2 separate regions of the Homo sapiens genome follow, and region 2 is linked to region 1. The links come from fine-mapping of genetic effects on gene expression. Tissue or cell type: whole blood. Region 1 holds a variant in brackets; the other region holds the start of a gene. All regions are shown on one strand. Distances are from middle to middle.

Region 1 (2,500 bases):
TCCAGAGAGGGGTGGTCAGTATCTCAATGATAGTCATCAAATTAGATGGGGGGTGGGGGGAGTGGGAGGACTTGAACCCAGTCCTTGATCTCTTCCTGAGTTCTCGGTTCTTTGGTTACTAAACAAAGGAGGAAAAAGATCTAACAAAGATCTAGGTGAAAAGGAGACAAATTCCAAAGACCCCATTTTTCCAGCCACCCATCCTGCCTCAGCAGAGCACTGAGGGCTGGGTGGAAGAACATTCACTCATTCATCCATTCAGCACATCAGGCACCCACCATGTGGATGCCATCCAGCCTGGGAGCCACATGTGCCCAACTAACTTGTTTTAAGTCCATTCAGCAAGGTGGGGCTCGAGATCCAGGCAACAGAGGAAGTAACGAATGGAATGGACATAAAGTTGGTGGATACATGAAAGGTATCATTGTTAATAATATTGTTCCCCTGTTCAGCACATGTTTTAGTCAAGCACCAATTATTAGCAAGGCACAGAGGCACAGTGCTCCAGCTATGTCTGCCAGGCTATGTGCCAGTCACTTTACATGGAATTTCATTTCATCTTTACATCCACCCTATGAGGTGGTGAAGTGGACACCAGGATCTACAAGCTCCCTTTTTTGGGAATTTGGACCCCTCCCCCATCACATGGGTGAGTCCCTGAGGCCACGTTTGTACCTAGTGGTCCCGCCTTATGGTCATAGGTGATTAGATTAGGAGTGGGCATGTGGCTCAAGCTGGGCCAATCAGGTTCTCTTTGTGGAGAATTTATTTATTTATGGAGATGGAATCTCACTCTGTCACCCAGGCTGGAGTGCAGTGGCGTGATCTCGGCTCACTGCAACCCCTGCCTCCCGGGTTCAAGCAATTCTTCGGCCTCAGCCTCCCTAGTAGCTGGGCCTACAGGAGTGCCTCACCACGCCCTGCTAATTTTTATATTTTTAGTAGAGACAGGGTTTTGCCATGTTGGCCAGACCAGTCTTGAACTCCTGACC[T/C]CAAGTGATCCACCCGCCTTGGTTTCCCAAAGTGCTGGGATTCTTTTTTTTTTTTTTTTTTTTTTTTGAGATGAAGTCTCAGTCTGTCACCCAGGCTGGAGTGCAGTGGTGCGATCTGGGCTCACTGCAACCTCTGCCTCCTGGGTTCAAGAGATTCCCGGGAGGCAGAGTGTGTGTGTGGAGGATCTCGGGTGCGGAGTAGCCACCACACTCAGCTACTTTTTGTATTTTTAGTAGAGATGGGGTTTTGCCATGTCGGTCAGGCTCGTCTCAAACTCCTGACTTCGGGTGATCCACCCACCTCAGCCTCCCAAAGTGCTGGGCTTACAGACATGAGCCACTGCGCCCAGCCAAGTGCTGGGATTCTTTGTGGAGAGTTTAGAATTGAGATGTCATATTAACTGAGGCTTATCAGAACTGAGGGGTTGAGGGGGAGAAGAGAGTAATGCAGCAGGTAGCTGAGGGTGGTAGAGAGGCTGGTGGCCTTCCTGTCCAGGTTCTAAGCAAAGTCTGGTTGCTTTCCCTCCTGGGCCCCTCCAGGCTTGCTACATTCTTATGATGCATTCTGGTTTTGCCTAAGCTAGCTTGAGCCAGTTTCTGTCACTTGCATCCAAAGAGTCCTCGGTAGAACAGCGAGTTCCATGATGGCAAGGGACTGGGTCTTGTTCACTAAAGTGTCCTTAGGACCTGGTACATAAAAAGGGCTCCATAAATGTTAGTTGAATTAATAAAAAGTGGAGGTTCCGAGAAGTTAATTGATTTGGACCCGAGCCTCACAGTAAGTAACAGCTGGACTTTGAACTGGGTCTACCGGCTTCAGAGCATGTGCCTTTTCTGCCATACCAGGCTGGCTTTTATAAATTGTTCTCCTTATTATTATATTAAAATCACAGGTAGTCAGAACTAGAGTGAACCTGAAGACTAGTAAGTTTTATTGTTTTGTAGACGAGAAATTGGGGCCTAGGGAGGGGAAATGGCAGAAGTTTCTTGATTCTCATGCAGCTACCTAACCCGAGCTGACGTTTAATTATCATGTGTGTGACACTGCTGTGCTTGCTGTTTGAGTACTGAAATGTTTTCATACCAGTTGATGACTAGCAGCTGCCTCAAGCCCTTAGTGTCCCCTCCTCTGTAGCCCCAGCCTTCAGAACCCCCGGGCTTCCATTATCCACAAGCAAAGGGGTTGTGCTGAGTCCAGCACGGCTCTCCAGGTCTATTCTGATTGGTCAGTATCTGTGCCACTCGACCTGTTAAATATCAGCCTTGAATTTACCTAGTGTGATTTGAAGAGTTCTGGTTACTTTGTCTCTCCATTAAAGAGAAGTGGGGATTTTAAAATATAGCAAAAATAGCATTGCTATCCTTCCCCTCTGCCTCCCATGGCAGCTCAAATTCTACTGTTCAGAAACATTTCATGTATCCACTCACCCCTTCATTCCACAAATATTTACTGGGTGCCGATTCTGTGACAGGCTTTTGGCCCCCAGGAGCTCTTGTTCCCCACCACC
Region 2 (2,500 bases), 53 kb before region 1:
GCGGGAGGCGGCGGCGGAGGAGGGGCTCCGGCCCGCGGAGCCGAACAAAGCGGGCCTCAACTTCCAGCCCCAGCTCCCCGGAGTGGGGGCGGCCGAGTCCCGCAGCAACCCGCTCTCCCCTCCCGGAGGTGGAAAGGGAATGTGAGGTGTGGAAGCCAGAGTGCCGCGTGGAAGCCTCGGGCTCTGATCTTTGCAAATCAGAGATGGTTTTGTTTGGGGTCCCCCCACCCCCTTCCTGCCCGCGCTCTCCCACTCTCACACACACGCACCCACACAGTCTCACTCCCTCCCTCTCTCTCCCTCTTCCCATCTCCAGCCCCACTGGGTCGGCCCCGCAGTGCCAGGGGGCTGGGCCGGCGTGACCCCGGGTCCCCCCCGGGCGGGCCCCCACCTGGGGATGGTGATGCACTTGGTGTTGACGTTCTGCGTGGTGATGGCCTTCTCCAGCTCGTCCAGCTGCCCCGTCTTCTTGAGTTTCTTGACCAGGCTCTTGACCGCCTTCTCGCACCATTTCTCCTCCTGCCCGTTCTGCTCGCCCTTCTTCCAGCCCAGCAGGCGCTTCACGATCGGGGGAGTGAAAGGCAGGATGGACGACATGGCTGGGGAGGGCGCGCGGGCGGCGAGGAGCGCCCCCGGCGGGGCTGGGCTCGACGGGACGCCGGGGGCGCAGAGGGGAGCTCGGCCGGGGCCTGCCGCGGTCGCCCAAACTTCGCCTCAACTCTCGGCGAAGTTGCCGGGGCGCCGGGCCGGGCCGCGGCGCTGCAGCCTGCGGGGCTCGGCGCGCGGCCCTGCGCCCGGAGCGGCTCCCACGGCGAAGAGAAGAGCGGCCGGGCGGGCGGACGGCAGCAGTGCAGGGTCGGGAAGGCCCCGAACGCGGGGCGGAGGCGGCGGCCGCGAGACTCCAAGTGGCAGCAGAAGTTTGGGTTTCCGCACGGGGTAGCTGTTTGGGTGCCGCCTCCGGGAAGGAAAGTCCAACCCCCGGCCAAACTTCGCTCGCCTCGCTAGCTTTGATGCGCAGATCCCTCCGCCTCTGCGGCCTCACCGCCCCGCCACCCTCCTCCTCCCGGCTCGCCGCTCGCTCGCTCGCTGGCTGGGCCGGCCCGGGGCGTGCGCCGCGCTCCCGCTCCCGCCCGCTCCCAGTCTGTGTTTCATGCAAATCCGCGTGCAGCCTCCTTTCCAAGTGCTGTCACCGCCCCCTCGCCGCCGGGGCTCCCCGCCTCCTCCCCCGCGCCCCGCCACCTCCTCCCGCGGGCGCCCTGCCCGCCCCCTGCTCCGGGGAGGGCGCCCGGCCGGCCACCACCCCGCGCCCAGCACGCCCACGTGGGCGACCCGGGCGGCGGCAGTCCTGGCTGGAGCGCGCGGGACCCTGCGCGGCCCCGACCTGAAGTCGGGCGGGCGCGGGGAGGAAGTCCTGGGAAACACGGCGAGAGGGGCCTCGGGCGGGAGGGCTGAGCGCGGCCCGTGGCGTCCGCTCTCGGAGTCCACACTCGGGCGGCTCGGTTGGAGTTGCGGGCCGGAGAGGGTTGGACTCGCAGCAAGTAAGCGTCGTCCGGACGCGAGTGCACCCTGGAGAGGACCCGAGCCCGAGAGGGGGCGCGCGGAAGGCCCGGGCCCAGGAAGTTGGGGCCCGCACTTGGCCTCGCGCTTGCTGATCCCCGTCAAGGCCCTTGGCCGGCGCCGGCGCCCCTGGGCTGTTTTTATTCTCTAGTCGGTGAGATCACACCGGCCGAGAGCCTCGGGAACGTGTGCGGAGGAGGAGGGGGTGAGAAGTGGGTCCTCAGAAGTGGAGAGCTGGGGACACCAGTGACAACCTGGACAATGGCTGGAGCCAGGGGTCTCTTGAGCCTTGTGAACCGAGTGCCCGGCAGAAAATGAGCCTCAAGGACATCTGTTGAGTTCTTGAAGGAATGAATGGAGGGGCTTTCGAATTTATCTTTGAAAGAAATTTACATAACAGGGTGTTTGTTGCTGGATCTCCTGATAGAGAAGGATCGGAAATTTGATAATTGCCAATAAATGGAAGAGAGTTTTGTTTCCAAAGCAATGAACTCACAAAAAAGTGGGGCAAGACAGGAGTTTTCGGAGAGTTTGTGTATTCAAAAAAAGCAAAACAACAACAAACCAATTGGCACATTGGGGAGCTCCGCGGCTTTTCTCCCCACCAAAAGAATTCAGGGGCGTCTGCCCGCAGGGCCCTCGGCGGTTTTCAGGAGCTACTCCAGGCCCCTCGGCCTTTCTCTTGCTGCCTCCCGCAGCCGACTAGCCGGTGTCTAAGCCCTTTGTTTGTTTTTAACAGCAGGAATCTCCCACCCCCACCCCTGCTTTGTTAAAAAAAAAAAGTTATCTGGAACCCTCAAGTGGGTGGGGAGTTACAAAGCCCTGTGAGGTGTGGCGGAATCCACAGTCAGCCCAGAAGCGGCAGGGGCCCTTGCCTTGCTCCGGAGAACCGCCTCCCACAAGCCAATCCGCAGCTGCTGCTGCAGAAGTGCGCTGTGCTCCT

Evidence for each region. PIP is the estimated chance that this variant, and not a neighbour inherited with it, causes the effect.
Region 2: it holds the start of SMAD3, and the variant in region 1 is fine-mapped to the expression of SMAD3 in whole blood (TOPMed, PIP 0.96).

Annotation. Positions count from the first base shown.
Region 1 is chr15:67,011,088-67,013,587 of GRCh38, reverse strand. All of the region lies in intron 2 of SMAD3-DT (SMAD3 divergent transcript), which reads left to right. Among named protein-coding and RNA genes, the nearest start is that of SMAD3-DT, 52 kb to the left of the region's middle. The variant T/C (reference allele first, on the strand shown) is at 993.
Region 2 is chr15:67,064,252-67,066,751 of GRCh38, reverse strand. It overlaps SMAD3 (SMAD family member 3), which reads right to left and starts at 1,150. Exons shown (of 9, transcript NM_005902.4): 1 at 392-1,150. The coding sequence starts at 597. RefSeq lists silencers at 1-23, 44-103, 354-403, 554-713, 884-1,373 and enhancers at 1-592, 2,132-2,500.